Linked DNA regions of Homo sapiens. The protein of the gene in region 1 interacts with the protein of each later gene in a pairwise test. Each region holds a gene or a part of one and is shown in the gene's direction. Other genes may lie near its edges.

Region 1 (7,109 bases):
CTTTCTTTTACTTTCAGACTCTTATAATACCTTACATAGTTGTAAGCCTATAGCACACTCTCAATGTATCTTAGTTCTTGATTTATTTTATCTTGATTTAGAAGGTTTCATACTTGATCTCAGAATATTCTTTTCATTAACAGAAGCCAGAATTGATAGTACCACCAAATGAGTGAAAACAACAGAAAAAAGAGTGATATTATTTGTTTTCCTGTTATAAAGTCAAAGAAGTAATAAAAATACTAACATCAGGTAGTGTCTATTAATAGAATAATGCACAGAACCTTAGAAAATCTTAATGTAACAGCAAAAGGAGAGAGAGCAAAAGGTGTCATCTCCCAGGCCAGATAAATTTTTCAGTTCATAGAATATACTTTGATTTGTTAAAAGACTGTTCCCTCAGATTAAGGATAAAGCATCTTAATAATACCTCTATGAATGGGCCCCAAAGGTTTCAGTAAACTGGCTATACGATAGTGCAATTCAGAGGGCCAAGTGTACCACTAATTCAAAAGGGAGGACTTTGCTACTGAATCCACTGGATAGAAGAGCGAATTAGGCTGATAGTTCTTATAATCTACATTATTTTGTCTGGATGGCTGTGACCTATATACAAGGTGAGTTGTACTTTTTACTTTATGGTCATTTCTAGGGCATAGAATTGCTCTTCACAAAATACATGAAAACCTTTGCATAAGTCTGTGATCTCGGTTAGGGGATGGAGGAGGGCTGGCATGATCCATCAGATTCATCAGAGGGAGTTTTTGAAAGCACATGTATGTACTACCTCTATAGGCCCTCACTGGTATTAAAGTGAGTACACGATATGCTGTAGCAGTGCTGGGGCAGGGAAAAGGTTGAAAAACAAACATAACTTGCTTGGATATTGCATGTTAAGATGCATTTAGAACCTGAATGATGTGGGAATATCCACTTCATTCTTGCAAAGGTGTGAAGTAAGGCAAGTCCCAAGAATGGTTTTGTTAGCAGAGCAAAATGGCCTTCATAAATTAAGACAGAAGCATTTCACGTGCCATATTATCAGGGAGAACTTGTAGGGACTCATGCCTTCTTTCACAGTGCCTTGAAAATAGCACAGTGAAGCACCACAAGCAACCATTTCTCAATTGTTTTCTACTTGATTAGCTTGAGTGGCTGACCCAGTTGCTGACGTTCGGAGTAGTATTGCTTGCCATCTGACAACACACAGGAACAAACTGTTGCGTATTCCAGAGTCACAGACCTATTTGAAGGGAATGAGATGCCTTTGGTGTATTGGTGATATCACTCTGATGATGTTACTTTGTTTTTCAGTTTATATGATAACCATTTAGAAAATTATTTGCTTCTAAAAAGGATTTAAAAAGAAGAGCAAGTACTATTAAAAAAAAGCAACATCAAAAATCTTATATTGGTCAGCAAATATAAGTATGTTTTAATTTTTTAATGTTACTTAAATTAGACACTTCAAACAAACTAAAGCAATTGAGTCAATAATAATTTTAAATTATATTAAAGAAATCTATTTTTGAAATAATAGTATATTTAAAAAGCCACCCTTATGTAAATGAATTCTGAAGGAATTACAAAAACAAATCTAGGTAGAGTTTGGTTCCTCATTCACAAATTCTTGACTTTCATCAGACTCGTTTAATCTAAACTTGGTTGTACCTCTAGGGAGAAACACCTCTTCCTAACTTATTCTGAATCCTTAGTGTGGAGTGAAACTGGCAGGATGAAGAAAGTCTTCAGGTAGGGTTGGGACTCTCATCTGCATTCTAGGTCAGCTGTCTGGAGATTAAGAAATTTGCAGTTAACAGGAACAGGAACAGGTTGCAAATAAGAATTTAGTTCAGGTAATATGGGAGGTGTCAGCAAGTGTCAGTGATCAGGAAAATAGGACAGCACAGGAAGAAAAACCAATATCAAAAGAAAACATATTGAATCAAGGGTTAGTGCTGGGTGCTAAGGGTCGGGGGAGAGTGGGTATTAGCCACAAAGACACAGTCAGGGAATGTAATGGAGCATTTACTGAGATCCTTTCATTTTTCAGGCACAGGAATAAATTCTTTACCTTAATCTTCCTGACTCTGCTAGGTAGGAATCATTTTATAAGAAAACAAGCAGACATTGAACAGCTTGCCCAAGAACACACAGATAGTGAGAGTCTAAATTTGATCCTAGTTCTGTCTGCCTTCAGAACTTATATTCCTTCCACTGTAACATGAGAACAAGGGTTAGGCATATGGAATTATAGAAATGCATTTAAATCTAATTACAGAGTATATAAACCTTGCTTAACAGTACTCAAAAGGCATTAGAAGATGTGGTTTAGGGTGTGCTTGAGACAGGAACAGTTGCTTTTTGATTCTCTGGGGGAGTGAGGGAGGCTTTAGGTATCTGTGCATGGAGAAATCAGGCATGGAGATAGCTACTATCCATCTGAAGTGAGAAAAAAATCTCACATTTAGGATGAACTTCTGCAATCAAATAAGGGAACTATGAGAAAAGTTTTCTGGACCCTGGGTAAGGATGGGGGTGGGGAGAATCAGAAGTTTGAGAGGTGTCAGTGCTTCCAGTCAGGTCTGCATGTTTTCGTGACTACAGATCCTATCAAGACCTCCCTGCAAATTCCCACACCCTTCAATGGCTCTAGTTCTTTATCAGTCTCCAGTCCCTTTTAGGCCTAGGAGTGTTAACAGCTTCTCGCTATTGCTAGTCCCTGGGTACGTCACCATGCCTTGTTGATTCCCTTAACCCTTGCTCCTTGGTTAAAAAACCTGTTCAAAAATCCCAGCTGAGAATGCAGCCTGATTCTTGCAAGATCCACCTGTTGGAGCAGAAGTCAGTGCAGGTCAGCAGATGAGTCACTGCAGACTCCCCTTAGCAGGCAGATGGATCCAAAGTTCAGGGGATCTGGTAGCAGGCATCAGACTGCTGGAGACAGGATATCTAGGCTGTGTCTCAACATCAGGTACTGAAGATGCCAGACTTTTGGACTCAAGTCAACATATTTGGAGTGGAGCTGATTTATATGCTTCTTGTTAATGGTCTGGTCTTAATGTGTGTGTGTGTGTGTGTGTGTGTGTGTGTGTTGCGTGGAGGGTGAGAAGTAAGGAGCAAGACTATTCGGAACAGAAGCTTGAGAGTTGAGGCCCTTGGCCCAACCCATGCTGTGCTTAACAAACATAATTCCATGCTAACTAAACCGGAAGTTCTGAACTACAGATAGGGTGTCAAGGAGATTGTGTGTGCGCGTGCATTGTGTGTGTGTGTGTGTGTGTGTGTGTGTAAGGCCCCTCCTCTCAAAGATAAATAATAATGGTCATTTATGAGTGCTTGCTGTGTCAATCACTGTTCTGAGTGCTTTGCTTACAACAACCCTTGTAATCCTGGTAACAACTACATTTAGGAGGGTACAAATATTACACCAACTTTCCAGATGAGGACGTTGGCACAGAGAGATGAAGACCGAGGTCTCACAGTGAGGAACCCTCTGGGTGGAGAATAACCCAGGTACACTGGTTTTAGAGTCCGCTGTCCCCAGCACCACACAATACTGTCTCTGTGCCTGACTCTGGACTTGCGAGGAAGTGTGTTGGTGTATATTATTCACCTTCATGCACTCAGAACCTAGCACCATGCTGGCACGAGGCATGGTTATTTGTTGATTGAATGAATGCACTTTTGCTAGGCCGCGAGGACTGTGGCAAACCCCAACAACCAACAGTTCGTAGGGTTAGATCGCAAACTTTTCTCCGTTGGACGGTGCTGCCGGGCCCACCCTTTCCTTACCACAGCCCGGCACCCAGGCAGCCCCTAAACGGAGATGGTCTGCATCTGCAGGCGCGGGGAAAGGCATAGCAGGCAGCGCCCTGAACAAATCAGAAAAACAGCCTTCGGCTCTGGAGCCCACTCCGGCACGGCCTCAGGTGCTCTACCCCGCGGGATCCAGGGAGTGGCCGCCACTCACAGTTGCCCCTCCTGTCCGCTCCGGTCCGCTCCCGCCGCCCGAGGTCCGCGACGCCCCGCCCAGTGGGTGGAGTGTGAGGCGGGGAGGTCGCTCGACTCGCCGGCGCTGTGGCCTCCCGCGGAGCCGCTCAGACTTTCCCTGCCGGCACATGGACCTGGCCCAACCCTCACAGCCAGTAGACGAGCTGGAGCTCTCGGTGCTCGAGCGGCAGCCAGAAGAGAACACGCCTCTCAATGGTGCCGACAAGGTCTTCCCTTCTTTGGACGAGGAGGTCCCCCCGGCCGAGGTAAGGTCCCCTTGGCGCTGGCCCTAACTTGCCGGCGGCGGGACAGTAGTAGGACCCGGGCCTGGCACCCGCGAGTTTCGGGTTTCCAGTCAGGCGGGGCGTCGACGGCGCCGAGCGAGGGTGGGGCGCGCTCGAGTGCTCTGAATGGAGCCGAGTCACCGCGACACCTTTCGGCCCGAGCAGTCCCCTCCCCAGCCCCTGGGGTCCTCCAACCCCTCTGACCCCCGAGGCGCTTTAGGAATCCTAGTGGTGAGGTGTGGCCGCTGCTGTCTTCAGAGAGGTATTCCGGAGATGGAAGTAGTTTTTTAAAGTTATGTAACTTTTAATTCAGTTTTTCTTTTTTCCAGTAGGGAGAATGAGAATGACAAATTGAGTATCCTCCTTCTCTCAGAATCTCTTCTGTCCTCCTCTTACCTTCACTGCCTTGCCACTTCTCTCCCTCCCCTCCACCCACCTCGCCGCAGCCCCCAGCCTTCTTCCATGCCTACCATCCGCCAAGCACTTTCTGCCTTCTCCCAGCCTGGCCATTGGATTCTGCCGGAAGAGAGATAGGGGAGAGCACAGAGGAGAGAAAGCGGTCAGAAGGGGAGAAGGGGTAGGGCTGGCGTAGAGATGGGGCGGGCGGGTTAGGGGGTCGGCGCGGGGGAGGTGAACTTGCCCTGCTCAATTGAAAGAAAATAATTTCAAAGTTCTTGTCTCGAAGGTTGAGACTTCGCCCACCTTGCTTTTACCTCCTCTCAATCCCTAAGGAAGTCCCTGGCTATTTTTAGGCCAAGCTCTTTTCTGATTCATCCCTAGCAATGATGGGAACATTATTCACTCTCATCAAAGACTTGTAAAACATCAGAGCTTTGACTTCCCAGCCATCCACCTTCTGATTAACTCCTAAGATTGGCTTGAGGTTTTCTGGGTGCACAGAACTCCCCATATAGAGCCCCGACCTGATCTTTCTAGGCCCCACTCCTCCACCCCCAACTTTTTGGCTGCCCAGCTGTTGATTTTAGGGATAAGCAGGAAATTCAAAAGTTGAAAGCATTGCTTTTGTTCTACATTGATTCCTGGAACTATTGCAAAGTCTGCTTTTATAGGTACTCTGGAGAGTAATTTGGAAACTTATTTCTGAATAAAATATGAATGCCACAGAAGAATGAAGGTTGAACAAAGATAGTCTGGTCACCAGTGCAAGTGGCCACAACTGTGAACTGGCTGTATGAGTCCTCCAGGGCGGTGTCCAGGAATGGGAGTTGGAAATACTTGCCTCAGATTAGATGGACCCGCACACCCTAAAGACTCCCTAGCTTGGGGCTGAATCCAGAAATCTGGTGACAGTTTTGCCACTAAGAAGTGTGTCCCAGAGGCAAGCCTGTCCCGTAGTGGTAATGTGTGCCTACTCGGCCTTCTGTGAGGCCTGGGAATGCCTTGTTGAAAACAGGTGGTGGGTAGAACAAGCCAAATCCATGCAGGGTTATCAGTATTCTGTAATTGTTTAGCACCTACCCTGTAGCAATGGTTCTTTAATGTTCTCATGACGTCCTTGTTAGTAAGGTATATACAGATACCCTGGACTTCTTTGTAAGTTAGCTTTGTAGGTCACCCAATAGGAGAGCTGTCCTCAGTAACAGGATGGAGTGAAGGTGAAGGGCTACAGGAGTACTTGGAGTGTGTTCAAGGAATGCCTTGAACTAATCTCATCTAATGTGTTAATCATTCTCTTTTGTCCTATAAAATAAAGTGAAGTGTATTTCAGTTAGAAAAGTCAATAAATATAGGCTCATTAAAAAGATTCAGACACTTAAGAATTTTGTGTGTTGGTCTCTTTGAACTGTATATTAAGATTTCTAATTTTGAAATGTAGCTGAAGTCCATGTATTTTCATTAACCCTGTTTAGTAACTGTCTTGTGACAAATACTTTTGATGCATAAATGCATTTAATTATCACAACTAACTTAAGAGGAAGGCGTCAGTATTCTGGTTTGTCAGATTGAAGATGCTGAGTGAAGAAATTGAGGGAGGCTCAGAGGAGTTACCAAAATCCTCAAGTTCACTCAGTGGTGCCTCTGAAGCTTGAACGTATGTTTTTTAGATCTCAAACCTTTGCTGTTTCTGTTGATTTATTCTATCTATCTATCTATCTATCTATTATCTATCAGCATTTAATTTAAATATGTTATATATAATTTATACTCATTTGTTTATAGTTGCCTAAGTTATTAATTATTACTAATTTCTATAAGTTAGGTAATTTATAATTAGGCAATTTAAGTGAGCTAGGAGTTGAGTATCACATCTGGAATGATGGAGTTGCAGGTGGATGGGTGAGGAATCGGGAACAGTTCTGGAATGATTGGGAAGAAGACATCTCTCTTCTTCCTTGGAAGAGCTGTGGTGGGAGAGTGAACAAAAGCAGTAGAAGGAACTTCTTTGCCTTTCTTGATGTGTGCTTGGCACTTGAGACAAAGGAATAGAAGCCACTGAACTCCACTTTGCCTGCTGTCACTGTAAACATGGCAATATGGCTGGGTCAAAAGTGAAAAATAAATTATGGGTAATAGAGTGAGGCTGGTTTTCTTTTATGGCTTATTACAGGGGCTCAGTTTTCAAATAGAAATCCCAGAGGCATTTTAAGAGATGGCAACATCATTTGAATAATAACAAACCAGTAAATTGATAGTTTTGAGGCAGGTAAGATTTATTTCAGGCCGGGTACAGCGGCTCACGCCTGTAATCCCAGCACTTTGGGAGGCCAAGGCAGGTGGATCATCTGAGGTTGGGAGTTCGAGACCAGCCTGACCAACATGGAGAAACCCCGTCTCTACTAAAAAAAATACAAAATTAGCCGGGTGTGGTGG
Region 2 (5,078 bases), on another chromosome or scaffold:
TGCATTTGGCTTCTGCCCTTGGGACACTGATATTGCAGATGGTTAAATGGGAGGGCAGAAAATGAATGCACAAGTGGATCTATAAATGAATGATCCATTGGGAAGCATCTGTGCATGAAATCTATTTTTTGTTTGTTCTTTTGTTTATTGAGACAGAGTCGCCCTCTGTCTTCCAGGCTACAGTGCAGTGTCACGATCTTGGCTCACTGCAACCTGCGTCTCCTGGATTCAAGTGATTCTCCTGCCTCCGCCTCTCGAGTAGCTGGGATTACAGGCAACTGCCACCGTGCCCGGCTAATTCTTTTTGTATATTTTTTGTAGAGAGGATGTTTCACCACGTTGGCCAAGCTTGTCTGAAACTCCCAACCTCAAGTGATCCGACCGTCTCAGCATGCCAAAGTAATGGGACTACAGGCGTGAGCCACTGTGCCCAGCCAGAATTCAAAATCAATAATAGATAATGCTGAGTGTATGATTTCAGGTGACAAAGAAGGTCTCACTATTCAGATATTTGTGACATTAATGAAAAACACGGATTGAACCCCTGAAAGATTGGCGGAAGGATTTTGCACACACAGCTGTCAGCCGTGAAGGCACAAAGGTGAAAACAATCTGATGTGGAAGGAAGAGGCTCTGCCTCAAATGCTGGGAATGATGTGGGGAGAATGACAAGACGACTGTAGAGAGACGGAGAGCACACTGGGTACACAGGAAACTAAGGAGCAACAAGGAGTGTGTGTTTGACACTCACAGCCATTGGATTCACCTCGGGGTAACCAGGAATCCCTACATGATTAATATGACTGACATGAAAATAAGGGAGGCTCAGTTGCATAACTGGAATCTAGGAGACCGTGGAAAAGGCAATTGCCACCCCACTGGTGAAATGTGGTGCTGATTTAGACACTAAATGAATGAAGTAGATGGATATAAGATATGTTTGTGAGGTAGAATCATTGACTGGAAACGCTTACTGGGTTTGATTTTCCTACTTGTTTAATCCTCGCTTAATTAATTTCTTTCTGAGATTTATTCATCCTACACATAAATCAATACCTGGCAAAGGAGTGACAGATATATGAGTGGTGGTGGAAATGAAGAGACTTATTATAGCATAATATACAAGTCTGTGAACAGTGGCTCACGCCTGTAACCTAGCACTGCAGGAGGCCAAGGTGGGTGGATTCCATGAAGTCAGGAGTTCCAGACCAGCCTGGCCAACGTGGTGAAACCCTATCTCTACTAAAAATACAAAAATTAGCCGAGCACGATGGTGCATCCCTGTAATCCCAGCTCCTATTCTGGAGGATGAAGCAGGAGAATGACTTCAACCCAGTAGGTGGAGGTTGCAGTGAGTGGAGATTGCATCACTGCACTCCAGCCTGGGGGACACAAGGAGACTCTATCTCAAAAAATAAAAATAAGAAATACATAAATATAATAAAACACACACGAATGACAAAGGCACCTGAATTCCAATCATCGTTTTTCTATTTCTCTATAATTACTTCTTTGATCCTTTATCTTATCCATTAGGCAATGAGCTTAAAACCTCTTCCCTATTTGGCTTTCTGTGAGAATGAGATCACATAGAAAATGTGAAAGCCCTCAGAATCCTCCAGCACAGATCGTGGAATAGAGAAAGTGCTCTGTTCATCGCAACAAAAAACTTGCCCACTCACCCAAATCCCCCACCTCACCCCTACTTCCAATCACCTGTGGAGATTCAGATAGGCTATGGGGAGGTAAACATTGATACTCCTTGGAGTGAGTCCAGATCTTGGAATCAGAGATCAGTGCCAGCACTAGCTCCTGCTCCCCTTTCCTACTAATTCACAGGAGGACAGGTGGTATTGAAGCAATAGATGGCCGAGGGGGTGGTCCTTCCCCCAGCCTCTCGGGTAGAACAGCAGCCTAACATGTGTCTCCCGAGATCACAAAGAGTAGCACGTTTCACACGGGCTTCAACACTATTTCCTGGCCATTTGACATAAGAGAATTCTACTTAGCTTTTTTTATCTTGATTTCACTTTTGTTTCCTTTTCTTGGAGAATGCAAGTTGTTTGATTCAAGAATGCTGTGGATGTAGAAATCCTAAAGCACATTCGCTGTGTATCAATCCCAGTGCAGTCTTCCCAGAGAAGACTCTAAATACCTCCTGGACTGCACCTGGGCTTATGCCAATTCCTATCACTCACCGTCACTCCAGGGAGACAGAACACACAGAGAATACATTACACAGGCAGGTTCATTACTAACAGATAAGCAGCGAGTGACAACAGAAACCTACATTTCAATGTGAGCCAGTCCCTCAAGGCTCAGAAAAGCTACTCGGGACATATGGAGTCACCCCATTTGCAGTGTAGCTGGGGGAAGCCAGAGAGCAGCCCAGCCTGGGTTTTGTACTGTGGAGCCACAGGAAGCACTCAGCTAAAGCACTGCATGACGTCCTCCTCCAGGAAGAACAGGAAGACAGCCCAGGCTGTTCTGAGACGTTCCTCCTGATCTCAGGACGTTGCTGTCTTAGTCCATTTTTGTTGCTCTAAAGGAACACTTGAGCCTGGGTAACTTCTAGAGAAAAGAGATTGGTTTGCCTCACAGTTCTGCAGGCTGTACTGGAAGCGTGGCACCAGCATCTATTTCTCGTGACGGCCTCAGGCTGCTCCCACTCTGGCAGAAGGGAAGGAGGGTCTGTCTGTGCAGAGACCACAGAGATCACACGGCAAGAGAGGGAGCAAGGGGGAGGGGGAGCGATGGAGCTTCCAAGCTCTTTTGAACAACCAGCTCTCCAGGAACTAATAGAAGGGGAACTTGCTAACCCCGTCTCCTTGGGACAGCATTGGTCTGTTCATGATGGATCCACCTCCATGACCCAAACACCTCTCAAGAGGCCCAACCTCCCACAGTGGGGGTGAAATTTCAATGTGAGGTTTGAAGGGGTCAAACATCTCAACTAAAGTAGTTGTATCCTCAACACGTTCTATGGTTACTATGAGAGCTATAACTGAGAAAGCAGGAGAAAGCTGGGTCTCCCTCCATCTGGGTGCTTGTCCTAAAGGGGTGTTGTATGTGGTTACCTGTCAATCAAGAAATGTGAGACAATTCATAAAGAGGAACTGCTATGATTAGCTTCTTATTGGTGTCTCCTCTTCTTCCAGGTAACCCCAGACACCTGCATGTTCTGATTGGGACCTCAGTGGTCATCATCCTCTTCATCCTCCTCCTCTTCTTTCTCCTTCATCGCTGGTGCTGCAACAAAAAAAGTAAGTCTCACGAAGCAGAGGCCAGAGAGCTCAGGGCCATGTGGGGAAGCAGGATGGGAGCACTCAGGTGTGTGTTCCTCACAGACAGGATGGTCCCTGGCCCAAGGCAGCAGCCACAGAGGGAGGACTTTCTAGAGAGAGCACCAGACTCCCTGTCCCTGCCTTCAGCTCACAGACCATTGCCTGATTCTGAACTGTATCCTCATGTCCCCTGCAGCCACTCACATCCAGGAGAAGGTTCCATGACAGGCAGAAAGTGGGAGACAGAATCAATGGGATGGGAACTCAGAGCTATTCATGGGATGGGTCCTTGAGCTCAGAGAGATAGAATGTCTGAGTCTGCTGTTGGCAACTGAGGGACCTCAGGCTCCTATGGTCTCCCCCTGTATGTTGGTATCTGCTTATGAAATGAGGGCCCAGAAGTGCCCTCTGAGCTGTTTTGTTGACTTCCGTCTTCTACAGATGCTGTTGTAATGGACCAAGAGCCTGCAGGGAACAGAACAGTGAACAGGGAGGTAGGTGCTCCTCGGCCCAGCCTCGTGGCTAGTGTTATTCCCAAAGAGTCCTGGAAAATGTGAGCACCCTCCCTCACTCAGCATTTCCCTCTCTCCAGGACTCTGATGAACAAGACCCTCAGGAGGTGACATATGCACAGTTGAATCACTGCGTTTTCACACAGAGAAAAATCACTCGCCCTTCTCAGAGGCCCAAGACACCCCCAACAGATATCATCGTGTACACGGAACTTCCAAATGCTGAGCCCTGATCCAAAGTTGTCTCCTGCCCATGAGCACCACAGTCAGGCCTTGAGGGGATCTTCTAGGGAGACAACAGCCCTGTCTCAAAACTGGGTTGCCAGCTCCAATGTACCAGCAGCTGGAATCTGAAGGCGTGAGTCTGCATCTTAGGGCATCGCTCTTCCTCACACCACAAATCTGAACGTGCCTCTCCCTTGCTTACAAATGTCTAAGGTCCCCACTGCCTGCTGGAGAGAAAACACACTCCTTTGCTTAGCCCACAATTCTCCATTTCACTTGACCCCTGCCCACCTCTCCAACCTAACTGGCTTACTTCCTAGTCTACTTGAGGCTGCAATCACACTGAGGAACTCACAATTCCAAACATACAAGAGGCTCCCTCTTAACACGGCACTTAGACACGTGCTGTTCCACCTTCCCTCATGCTGTTCCACCTCCCCTCAGACTAGCTTTCAGCCTTCTGTCAGCAGTAAAACTTATATATTTTTTAAAATAATTTCAATGTAGTTTTCCCTCCTTCAAATAAACATGTCTGCCCTCATGGTTTAGGTAATGGGACTCTTTTCTTGCCTAAGGCTTCCGGTGTTATCAGTACCATGTCCATATAATCCCATCTGTTCTCCACCGGGTTCTCACCTCTGGACTCTGAGCTTCTGGAAGCAGTGTGGAGCCTCATTTGTCTCTGGGACTCCAATTTCCATCCAAAGATGCAGCACATAGGAGGTTCCAAGGATCGGGAATCACATGAACAAGTGACATTGTTACTCTCTGCAGACCTGGAAAGCTGGCAGAGTCATTCCACGATGAAACATTTGTAGAGTCATAGGCCTTGTTAGTCTCATCTCCATGGGGACACATATCAACACATCATCTTTCATACTATAAATATACGGTCACTCCTCCGTATCTGTGGGGTTTACAGGTCTTTATTGAACAAAGTATAAATCAAAAATATTCAGAGAAAATATCCACAGAGTTCCAAAACTCATAACTATGTTGAATGGACACAAATGAAGCTGTGTGTAGGCTGTATCAGGAATTATAAGTAATCAAGAGA
Region 3 (4,788 bases), on another chromosome or scaffold:
AAGTCACACAGTTACCAAAAAGCAGAGACAGGGTTTGAACTCAGGCATTCTGATGCCAGAGCCCAGGCTCTCGATATTGCCTTTCATTTTCCTCCAGGAAAGGATTTACATGAGATGGCAGGTGGCTGGGGAAGCAGTGAGTACACACTCACGTTGTGAAGGCAGGGAGACTTGTGGGGGACTTGCTGGGAAGCTGAAGAGCTCAGGAGGATGAGGAGAGGGAGTGGACGGTTTAAAAAAGACAGTGTGAGAACAAGAGCCCTGAGCCAGAGGAGAAAATGACAGCCCTCTCCTCCCTCTGATTTCTGAGAGGTGTTCCTGCCCCCAGGAGTGAGGACACTGTCTTTCTCCTGTGTCAGGCTATTTCCCCATGGAAAGGAACTATATCTCCCTGATGGCCCTCACGGATGGCCAGGCCCCACCTTCCCTTTGTGGGCTTGGCACTGCCTTCCTTTCTCCACAGATCCTTTAGTTGCTTTAGTTGAGCTGCTCCTCTAGCAGCAGCTCCAGCCCAGGCAGCTCCTTGGGGCCAAGCCCTTTTCCAAGGGTCAGAAGCTGTGGGCAGGGCCAGGCTGAGGCCTCTCCTGATCCTGTCCCCCTGTCCCTGGACCTCACTCCCACAGGCCATGAAATTATTCACTGCGATCCGGGATGCCCTCATCACTCGCCTCAGAAACCTTCCCTGGATGAATGAGGAGACCCAGAACATGGCCCAGGACAAGGTCAGGCCAGGCGTCCTGGCTGGTGTGGGAGCCTGTGCAGGGAATGGAGTATTGGAACAAGCGAGATGGGGATTGGAAGCAAATGCCAAAGGCCCCCCCAGGCACATGCTAAGTAGGGAAGCCACTGGGCTGTATACTCACACTGGCAACAATGTGAGAGGCTGGGACAGGGCAACGAGTGGGAGAAATTTCCTCTGGTAGACTCGGAGAGTATTCCTAGCCTCTTCTGTGTCTCTCTCCAGGTTGCTCAACTGCAGGTGGAGATGGGGGCTTCAGAATGGGCCCTGAAGCCAGAGCTGGCCCGACAAGAATACAACGATGTGGGTCCCTGTGTTTTCCAGCTCCTTTTCAGTCCTTGACTTCTCGTCACTTCTCTGACCCTCCTAAGTCTTTGTTGGACAATCAGTTTTCCCTGGGTGACTTAGCTCTGTCCTTACTCTGGTGCTGGCTGGGGTTGATGGGGAAATATCCACACTGTACGTCTTGCTGGCAGAAGAACAGAATCTTTTCAGGTCCCAACGCATGTGCCAACACACATGCATGCATCCTGTGACTTGTCTGGGCGTGTTCATCTGTGTGCTGATATGTGTAAAGCCTGGGTGTGCTGTGTAGTGATGCCATTGGGCTGCTCTCTCCTAATCCCTGGATGCCTGCCTGTCAGGGCTTGCCTGTTTGGGGTCAAATGGTCCCATTGGTGTTTGTCAGCGTGCATCTATAGAAGTCTCTGTGTGCCCAAGTCACCTCCTGCCTCTTCCCCAGATACAGCTTGGATCGAGCTTCCTGCAGTCTGTCCTGAGCTGTGTCCGGTCCCTCCGAGCTAGAATTGTCCAGAGCTTCTTGCAGCCTCACCCCCAACACAGGTATGACAGCAGGGGAGACACAGGCACTCCATCCCAGAGAGACCCATCCATGATTCACAGGAAAGGAAGCCAGGGCTCAGGGCAGGCAGCATGAACAGTAATGGTAGTTGGGAGGGACTGTGTAGGTCTCAGGGTGGCAGGGCAATACGTGGTGGGGGCTGGAGTTCACATGTCCTCTTCCCACAGGTGGAAGGTGTCCCCTTGGGACGTCAATGCTTACTATTCGGTATCTGACCATGTGGTAGTCTTTCCAGCTGGACTCCTCCAACCCCCATTCTTCCACCCTGGCTATCCCAGGTATGGGTCACTCTGTAAGGGTAGGTAGGGAGTTTCCCAAGAGGGGCCGACAGGTGTTATGATGGATGGGACTTACGGTTGGAGAATTGGGGTCACAAATGCTGAGAGATTCTGGGGGTCAAATAAGCCCTTGTCTCCCTAGAGCCGTGAACTTTGGCGCTGCTGGCAGCATCATGGCCCACGAGCTGTTGCACATCTTCTACCAGCTCTGTGGGTAACAGGGGCCACTGGGAGGTGGGATAATAGGGAACCTAAGGGAAGACCACAAGGGAGGCCTGGAGGGGAAAGGGAGGTTATTTGAGGGTTTGAGGTGGGGCAGTCCTGGGAACTTTGCCATGCTCCTGGGAGCTGATTCAGTCTGTGGTACCACCCACATCCTCACCTAGGCAGCACCAACCCTATGTTCTCTTGCTGTATGTTCTCTTGTCCCATTTTCAACAGTACTGCCTGGGGGCTGCCTCGCCTGTGACAACCATGCCCTCCAGGAAGCTCACCTGTGCCTGAAGCGCCATTATGCTGCCTTTCCATTACCTAGCAGAACCTCCTTCAATGACTCCCTCACATTCTTAGAGAATGCTGCAGACGTTGGGGGGCTAGCCATCGCGCTGCAGGTATGCAAGTGTCAAGGGCCACAGTTTATGTGTACTGGCAGACTAGAAAACATGTCCTCAAGTTTTCCTTCCACCATTCCTGACACAAGTACAGTTGCATGGCTTTCTGCCCTTCGCATCCCCACTGAATAGACGGCAACTTGGGGATCCCCCTCCTACCCCAGAGATCCTCCATTTTAGGACATCTATAGGTCTTCTGGGAAGTACTCTTTCTTCTGGCTCAGATCAACTAGTCAGTGCAGAACCAGTGAGCAAGGGCCATGGGTTTTGGGTACTGTGTGGAGGGACTTTCAAATGGCCACAGGTCTAGAGCCTGATGGCCCTTCTCTACCCACCCCTACCCAGGCATACAGCAAGAGGCTGTTACGGCACCATGGGGAGACTGTCCTGCCCAGCCTGGACCTCAGCCCCCAGCAGATCTTCTTTCGAAGCTATGCCCAGGTAGGCAGCGGCCACCTCCCGCCACAGCTTGCTTTATGTCAGTTGAACGCCTTATTACTGAAGCTCATGGAAGTCCCCTCTTCAGACACTCCGTCAAATACCCCAAACCCTCTTCTGCAGATGTCCTCACTGTTATCTTTTCTCTTCCCTCCCTACCCCTTGGAATCACCCCTCAGATGACTACAGGTTCTTCTACCTAGTTCAGCACCCCCACAACTCAAAAGGTAGAAAAAACTCTATTCCCAAGTTCCTCCAGGAGAGGAGGAGACCAACTTTTTTTTCCTCTCATACCCCCAAAATACAGATGCCTTAAAAATGAGCCTGTGGTTGGGCACAGTGGCTCACACCTGTAATCCTGGCACTCTAGGAGGCCGAGGTGGGCGGATCACTTGAGATCAGGAGTTTAAGACCAGCCTGGCCAATATGGTGAAACCCCGTCTCTACTAAAAATACAAAACTTAGCTGGGCTTGGTGGCGGGCGCCTGTAATCCCAGCTACTTGAGAGGCTGAGGCACGAGAATCGCTTGAACCTGGGAGGCGGAGGTTGCAGTGAGCCAAGATCATGCCACTGCACTCCAGGCTGGGTGGTAGAGCAAGACTCAGTCTCACAAAAAAAAAAAAAAAGCCTGCGACAGGCTGACTGTGTGCCACATTCCTCTTCAGACACCTGACCTTAGGTGTGGCGCCCACTTGACATCACCTCCTTAAGCACCCTGTACTCCCTCAACAGACTCAGGTGCCAGGTCTTCAACACGCTTAGATTAGACTTCACCCCAGAGCTCCTGCGCTAGACCCTGCCTCTCTGTCATTGATAAATGGTATCATTACACAGCCCAGGCCCTCCTCCTGGACTCCTATTGCCAGATTAAATGAACTATACATTTCAAATGCTCCATGTGGCCCTTGGGGCACTTGATCCCCTGGTTCCCCTCTTTGTCTGCTGTCCCTGATCACCCCTTGTCACCGGGTCAGCTTTGTCCTGTGGACCCTCCCCCTTCAATGACCTCTCTTCCTGCTCAGGTGATGTGTAGGAAGCCCAGCCCCCAGGACTCTCACGACACTCACAGCCCTCCACACCTCCGAGTCCACGGGCCCCTCAGCAGCACCCCAGCCTTTGCCAGGTATTTCCGCTGTGCACGTGGTGCTCTCTTGAACCCCTCCAGCCGCTGCCAGCTCTGGTAACTTGGTTACCAAAGATGCCACAGCACAGAAATATCGACCAACACCTCCCTGGTCACATCCATGGAATCAGAGCAAGATTTCCTTTCTGCTTCTGTTCCAAAAATAAAAGCTGGCACTTGGCTTCCGCTTGTCTCTTAATGACTTGTTCCTGCTATGTTCTATGCCTGGAAGTCATTAACTGTACGGGAGAAAAATACCCTGAAGTTAGAAAAGATAAGAGGGAGAAATGCCAAAAATGTTTCATGGACACAAGAAAAGGAAAGAATCAACAATTGGTGACCTGGTGGGTTTGAAGGCCACCCAGTGGACCAAAGATTGGACAATAAAGCAGTCTAGTTGGAGACGAGAAGGGCTTGGATTAAGTATCGGAAAGCTGCTCCCAATTGTTCTCAGGATTTTATCGTTATTTTATTGTCATTGCCTCCTGCCTCTAATCTGCTGTCCTGAACAAAACCAGGAGAGGTGTGGGAGAGAAGGATGTGGGTCTGCTGTCTCTGGCCCTGGGAGATGAAACTCCGAACCTGGAGAGGCAGTCAGTTAGCACTGATGGCAACTGGTATCTCTGCTGCTGAACCTTGAGATACAGTGATGGTGATCAGAGGCAGAGAGCCATGCCTGCATCTCCTTTGGGAGTTGTGACCTGGAGCCCAGGAGGGAGGGAGGGTCAGTGAGTGA
Region 4 (7,038 bases), 3.8 Mb from region 1:
GAGTAGTATGTTCTGAGTTGCAAATTCAGGGGTGGAACAGAAAGTTCTGGGTGATAAGTGCAGGAATCTATGGAAATGCTACGCTGAGTGGAGTAAAAGTAACTAGTTTTGGAGTTCTTGACTTTTTCTTCCTAGAGTTTTAGATTTGCTGATAAGAGAGGAGGAAGGGACATAGAAAACTCAGATGACCCAAGTGGCAAGCATTTCTTAAATATTTCAGACCCATAAAGGTACAAATTATACTCTAACTCAACCTTATATGCCCTATCCAGCTCAAATACTATTGACATTCGCTAGGTACCATTTCGTGTAGGAGCAAGGGTCACTCTAGAATAAACTTAGATTCTCACAGTGAGATACAGAATCCCTAAAGGTACAGGAGCGATGGCTTGGAAAGAGCACAGTTGGATGACGAGAGTCCCAGCTTTATTTTCAGATTCCAGTGTGGCGAGAAGACGGGAAAATGAGCAACTCTTCTTAAGAAAAAGGAGATAGGGAAATGGCGCTTTGGGGAAAGAATTGAGTTCCATCTGAGGAGGGAAAGCAGCAGGAATCTGAGCAGGTTTTGGGTAACAGGCAGTTTATTGGGTAATGATGTTTTCAGAGTACACAAGGAAGAGGTTTGAAAGGACCAACAGAAGGGGAAGGCTGGGTGGGTCGAGGGGAAACAGCACAGAACCTGGGAGAGACAGTGTGTGAGAAGATGAGTAAGCAAGCGTCCTGTTCACAGCATGAAGTACCAGCTTTTGCAGAGACAGGAGGCAGGGTGGGAAGAAACAGCCCAGGGAATTCAAGGACAACCTGCCATGGGGTTTCACTGTATGCCTTTGTTTCATAGAAAGGATTTCACCACAAGGAGTTGATGAGTCAAAGATTCAGGTGCAAGTGATTTATTAAAATAGTGCTCTTAGACGAAACCAGTTAGGGGGTAGAGAAAGCCAGAGTGATGGGTAGATTAGGAATATAAACCAGGTGAGCCAATAATAGGAAAAGCATGGTTTGCTGGGGCTTCCAGGAAATAAGCTTCTCTCCTTAATAAGAAGCGCTGGTGAAGCTCCAGTTCTTTTCGTCTGGGTTTAGCGGTGTGTGAGGTCAGGCCTGAAACATCTACAGCCACTTCATTATCACGAGGGAAGCTAGGTTGTGTATAAGGTAAACCCACAGGAGGCAAAGCAGAGACGTGAAACCTAGTGACATACGTCCTGGGTAGAGCTGGCCAGAGGCTCCTAGAAGCCTCAGTTATGTTTCTCAGAAGATTCCCTTTGTTGTCTAAGCCAGTTCCAGGATGTTGCTCTTATTGCTTGTAACAGAAATCTAAATTCCCAAACACTTTATTTTAATAATGCTGTCATATTTATCTAAATGTTCTTTAATCTGGGAATTGAGAGTAATCAAAAATGACTAATGACATCAAATATTTACGTTTAGCTTCTAACACAGCTGAAATATTTCATAGCAGTACAATGAAATGAGAGAATTTCCTTTCTCTCATTTTCACTGAAATTTTCTCTTCCTTTCACTGGAAAGGAAGGAATTATACATGCACAATATCTCTTCTAATTTATGTCTTCTGATCTTGGAGTTAGTCTCCTTAAAATTTGAGTGTGAGGAGACCTAGGCCCTCCAAACCAATGTTCCCTATTGAATTTAGCGTTTTATTTTATATGCAAAACATTATATCCTAAGTGTGCTTTGTAGATTACATTTCTAATTCCTGTTCACTCTTGTGCTTTTAGTGTTGCATGCTCTGACATAGTTCTGCAAGCTGTCTTTGAAAAGCTTTTTACCTCTTCTTTTTACTGTACTTTTGTCTTCCCTGTGAATTCCAGAGACGTGACTGCAGAAATAGATGACTGAATACTAAGTATGTATAGGTTCTATTTTCCCACTTTTATTTACGTTTCTGAGGATTCCAAACACGTTTGTTGTTCTTGAGGCATTTCTTCTAGAGTTATCTTCTTACAGTCTTTTTTATTAAGGTAACTCCAGTTCAATTCTTACCCCTTAGTTCCTCCCCACCCCACCACAATTTTCCTCCCCTGCCCCCAATTATTTCAATTGTCCTTGTCTCTTATATTCCTATTTTCTTCCGTAGGCTAATTTGAGAGACTGCATTGTTTCTCTTTCCCTTTTGGAAGTTGAGGGTGGCCCGTGGTAGTTTTAATCTGCTTGGCAAATTCTTGTAATCTTTTCTCATAAGGATTCTACCCCTTTCTCCCTCAACTCAAGCAGCCTCAAGGTCATCTTGCCTCCTCCTTTCTTCTTGGAACCAAGCAGCATGCTTTACTTTTCACTTCTTCCTGCTTGCTACCTTAACTCCTCTATTGTTTCTCTTCTGCTTCTAAATTGGTTTCATCCGAGTGACTCGAGTGACTCGCATTTACCAAGTATTGCCTATGAGCTCTGTGGTTTGTGTGCTGCCTGTACAATATAAAAGGTAATCCACATAACTGAGCTGAGGTAGTGGGTTGATATTCTCATTTTAGAAGAAAGTTGAGATATGCTATAGTTTAGGAAATAAGACAAGTAATCTAGATTTGATTTCTGTGTTGCTATTTATATTAGTAATCTAATTCACACAAGAATGTATACTTGTGAGTTACATAGATCTGATTTTTATAGTAGGGAAATGAATATTAACATGAAGATTAAACAGTCTGACTTTAAAATGGTATATAAATGAGTTTGAAAGAGAAAATACCTGATTTCATTTTCTGTTCTGTTGTAGTAGGAGGGTTAGTCTTTCGATAACAGGTCTGAAATAGCATGATACCTGGAAACCATGATTACTGGAAACTGTAAATATTTTACCATCCAGGGTTCAACCTCCTACCCCTTATTCTCCTGACAGTACGCTGAGACAAACATTTTATTAACTAACATCTCTCTCAACATTTTCCCCTGCTAATTGCATTTTGATTGGTTCAAATTCCGTGTGGGGATTCCTTGATTCTGACAGTACAAGACATTCAGTTCTCTTCAAGTCATGTAATCGACTTTTTTGAATTAGTTTTCAGTTTCATTTTGTTTTCCCTAATTCAAGTTGGGAACACTTCATTTTCCCCAATTCAAGTTGGGAACACTTCCTTGGTATTTCCTTGCTACATGGACTTTAGCAAATGCTACTTTACTCTCCTTCCAGCTACTCAGGAGGCTGAGGCAGGAGAATCGCTTGAACCCGGGAGGCGGAGGTTACAGTGAGCCTTTTCCTAGTTTTACTGTTGGAAGCCTAACTCACAGGAGAGATTATGCAATACAGTCCTGAAGTCAAGGGAGGAGAGGTAGGAAGGGAGAGGGGAAAAGAAGTTCCTTGAGGGCATTTACTAGAAATGCCTCCTGGTGCTGCCTTTTCTGTTCTGGGCTAGCTGTCTCCTTGAAAACAGCACACACTAATAGGAAATTTAAAAAAAATCCTGGACTCGGTATGCTCTGTTGTCTTTTGTGGAGAAGTCAAAGCACCTTCTTTTTCTTCTCCACCCATGCCCCATCTCTTTGTTGCTTGTTTAGGCAAAAAAGTAAAATATTTCTTCCCCTTATTTGGCATTCAACTGCTTAATTCAGTTATGTCTTGGTTCTGAGTTTTCTGTATCAACTTTTCCTACAATGTGGAAACTTTAGATCAACAGATTCAATTCTGTCTTCATTTTAGAAAAGTTTTCTTACATTGTATTTATGTATCAACTCCTTGATTTGATGAGTTCTTGACTTCAGGGGCCAATATCAATTATCCTAATACTGTGTCATTTATGTGCTATAATGTAACCTCATCTAATTGCATTCAATTTATGTTCTATAGCTCAACCTCATCTAGTGCATTCATCTCTTTCATCTGAATTCATGAAGATATCACAAATCTTCCTCTACTTTGGCTTTCAGTGATATCACTTCTGTACTTTGCTAGCTCTACATTCTTATTAGTTATCTCTAGAAATTTTAGTCCATATTTTGTTTCCTCATATCTACAATCCTCTTCTCATCCTATCATTTTGTTTAGCTTGTTTTTGAGTACTTGTTTTGTTGTGTACATATGCTGGTCATTAATTTCTAATATAAAACATATAATTATTTTGTATATTTTTTTCTAGAGGGTATAGACCTAATTTAAGTGAAGTTTTCCTTTCTGTTCTTTGAACTGTTTTATTCCAGGTTGGGCTTTATTTTTTGGTCACTTGCATGCCATTCCTGTACCCCACCTATTTTGGATTATAGTGTATATTATGTAGCATGTCAGTTTTTTATTTTGCCCAGTTAGTGGCCAGGTAATTAAATCAGTTCTGACATAGTAGGTACGTGATGGGCTCTTGATTTTTTTTTCTCATTTTGTCTGAGACCTATAATCCATTATTGCAACCACCATCGCCACCACCTCACAGCAGGTGACTCTGGTGGTTGGGTATTTTGTGTTCTCTCATTTGCTTAGGCTGAGTTATTGGCAGGGGTGGAAATAAACTTTTTGTTAGATAATTGAACTGACTCTCATTTTTGGACCTACTGAATATCACATTCCAATGTTTATATCATTTAGTTGGTGGTGTGTATACGCGTGTGTAGTGTTCTAAAGGGGAATGCACTGGCGTTTTGAGTGGCTTCTCTCTGTTCAATGTATCATTGTATAAGCTATGCTCCCATTGTCATGTCAACGCCATTGTTTATGTTCCCATTTGTTTCCTACTCCTTCCCAGTCAAGAAAGAAAGAAGAAAGATTTCTCTCCAAATTTAGGCATTGTGTTACTTTCCTCAGGCTCCTTTAACAAACTACCACAAATATGGTGGCTTAAATTAAGAAAAACATATCCTCTCAGTTCTGAAGGCTAGAAGTCCAAAATCAAGGTGTTGGCAGGCCCACACTTCTGAAGATTCTAGGGGAGAATCCTTCCTTGTTCTGCCAACTTCTGGCGACTCCTGGTGTTCCTTGTCTTGTGTCAATATAAGTTCAGTCTCTGCCACCGTCTGTGTCTCCTTTCATACCTCTCATAGGACTTAAGACACAGCCTAATCCAGTATGATTTCATATCAGTCTTCACCTTAATTACATCTACAAAGACCTATTTTCAAATAAGCTCCCATTCTGAGGTTCTAGGTGGATGTGAAATTTTGAAGAACAACCAGTCGATCCACTACAAATATATTAGAAAGGACTTTCAGGGCTTCAGCAACACACCACAAATCTACTGTGTCTGAGAGTGGGCTTCACCTCCCTACTAATGGTCTGTTCTGCAGATCGCTAATCTCTCTAGATCTGGTAAATTGCTCCTTCAGCCCAGGATGTTAGGGTACTTGTCCATGTTGCTAGTCTTGGGGGTACAGCATCATTCTTGTTAGTTTCACTTAACCCTGCCTGCAGCTGTATAAATAGTCACATTAGTAAACTATTGATGATTACCACAATATGTTGTCATATTTGCTGCCTGAGTAGGATTACTGGTTGACTTTGCATCCTTGCCTTATAATTGATTTTTACAGGGACTATTTCTAATGTTTCCCCATTGAAGATTCTGTCTGTTTTTATAGGGTTTTCAGACATATTCTTTGTCACATTAAAACCTTTTACTCATCAATGAGGAATTTGCAATTACTTTGTACATTATCTATTTTTTTCTGCATGGATTCAGATGATTGGTTTTTCAACTCTAATCTGCTTAATATGCTTTTAGCCTGGGTTTTCTAGAAAACAGAACCTGAGCAAGGATTAAAATGCTGATGCTTTATTTGGGAGGTTAAAAACTCAGGGCTGTGAGAGAGAAGGAAAGCGGAAGCAAGGCAAGGGAAGATGGGCAGCTTTGTAAACGGACAGATTACCATGCTGGCTACTGCTTCACGAGTAGTCAGAAAGACCCAGCAATTCTCTTGGTCGTAGCATTCATCAGTGTGAAGGACTTTTCTGAATGGGAATGTAGAAAACCGTGCCTCAAAGTCCTCCACGGGAGGAAAGAAGATGGGGGGATTCATCTGCCCAGATCTAGTCGTTCCTGTTGGTTAAAATTTACCTCACAGGAAATAAGCAGTTCCATATATCCCAATGTCATCATCTAGTCCCTTTAATAGCAGCTCAGAGTGCTGAGTCCCATGCCCTGCTGTATAGAGTTCCATTCCATTCCAGAAGTATCAGGAGGAACCAGACACTCCAGGTACATGCCTGGTTGGCTCAGCTCTGGGTGGTGGCCAAGGAGGAAGGCTTGGCACTCTCAGGGCAAATGACTCAACAGAGCCTCACAGTGACAGTTAAGGTCAGTGACACATTTGAGCCAAGGAAATCTGAGGCACACAGACTTTGGTCTGATACATGTGATAAATCACATTTATAAATCTTCTAATGGTAAATCTTCTTTGGATTCCTGGAGAAAACCCAACTTGGTCACTGTGGCAGCCATGAAAATGTGGGCTCACATCTGCTGTGGGGAGTGTGGGTGATTGCAGCCCCAGGTGCTGCTGTCTGGATCATCACCACCTTTGTGTCATGGCCATGACTGATCTCAGCTGATGCTCCACTGATTATTCATTCCCTCAGTGATTGAGCACAGTGGCAAGGCTAACAAGGGAATCCTCTAATGGATGACTTTGGTGCAAGGGTTCCCCAGTCATCTAACAAAACTTTCTTAGAACTGCTGCAAGCCTGACGTTCCTTTCACTCCATTTCCACCCTTCCTCTCTCCTTTAACATCACAGTTGGAAAGTTCTCCTCACTTCTGCTTTCCCCCTTTATCCTTCACAGGAATTTTCCTCACTAGCATCCCTTGAACATCGTGTCCCATCTTAGTGTCTGCTTCTTGTAGAACGTGATTAGCACAGTCATAATACATTATCTGTTTTAATATTGTTAGATTTGGTTTACAACATTTTGTCCAGATTTTCATATCTCTTTTCCTGAGTGAAATAGATTATCTTCTGTCCTCATACAGTCTTTTCCTGGGTTTAAATAATGCTGTCCTTGAAGTTTGGTAGAATTTGTCTGGAAAACCATCTGGGCCTGCTCGAGCTCTCCCTCTCTCTCCCTCTGTGCGTGTGTGTGAAGGTTTTAAACTGCTATCCAATTTCTTT

The links.
Region 2: the proteins of C3orf52 (region 1) and KIR2DL3 interact in binary tests that used the Homo sapiens proteins (3 or more experiments, as listed by UniProt).
Region 3: the proteins of C3orf52 (region 1) and KEL interact in binary tests that used the Homo sapiens proteins (3 or more experiments, as listed by UniProt).
Region 4: the proteins of C3orf52 (region 1) and HHLA2 interact in binary tests that used the Homo sapiens proteins (3 or more experiments, as listed by UniProt).

What each region holds. Positions count from the first base shown.
Region 1 is NC_000003.12:112,082,287-112,089,395, forward strand, and holds the start of C3orf52 (TPA-induced transmembrane protein), read left to right. Parts: upstream 1-4,102; 5' UTR 4,103-4,121; coding exon 4,122-4,259; intron 4,260-7,109. UniProt on the Homo sapiens protein: Has a role in LIPH-mediated synthesis of 2-acyl lysophosphatidic acid (LPA). LPA is a bioactive lipid mediator involved in different biological processes, and necessary to promote hair formation and growth.
Region 2 is NC_000019.10:54,748,491-54,753,568, forward strand, and holds the end of KIR2DL3 (killer cell immunoglobulin-like receptor 2DL3 precursor), read left to right. Parts: intron 1-3,158; coding exon 3,159-3,263; intron 3,264-3,725; coding exon 3,726-3,778; intron 3,779-3,876; coding exon 3,877-4,029; 3' UTR 4,030-4,562; downstream 4,563-5,078. UniProt on the Homo sapiens protein: Receptor on natural killer (NK) cells for HLA-C alleles (HLA-Cw1, HLA-Cw3 and HLA-Cw7). Inhibits the activity of NK cells thus preventing cell lysis.
Region 3 is NC_000007.14:142,940,577-142,945,364, reverse strand, and holds the end of KEL (kell blood group glycoprotein), read left to right. Parts: intron 1-623; coding exon 624-722; intron 723-964; coding exon 965-1,042; intron 1,043-1,481; coding exon 1,482-1,582; intron 1,583-1,768; coding exon 1,769-1,879; intron 1,880-2,021; coding exon 2,022-2,089; intron 2,090-2,320; coding exon 2,321-2,490; intron 2,491-2,835; coding exon 2,836-2,931; intron 2,932-3,951; coding exon 3,952-4,113; 3' UTR 4,114-4,251; downstream 4,252-4,788. Other genes in the region: sperm-egg fusion protein LLCFC1 precursor, read right to left, coding at 4,778-4,788. UniProt on the Homo sapiens protein: Zinc endopeptidase with endothelin-3-converting enzyme activity. Cleaves EDN1, EDN2 and EDN3, with a marked preference for EDN3.
Region 4 is NC_000003.12:108,299,514-108,306,551, forward strand, and holds part of HHLA2 (HERV-H LTR-associating protein 2 isoform a precursor), read left to right. Parts: intron 1-2,971; exon of another isoform or gene 2,972-3,281; intron 3,282-7,038. UniProt on the Homo sapiens protein: Through interaction with TMIGD2, costimulates T-cells in the context of TCR-mediated activation. Enhances T-cell proliferation and cytokine production via an AKT-dependent signaling cascade.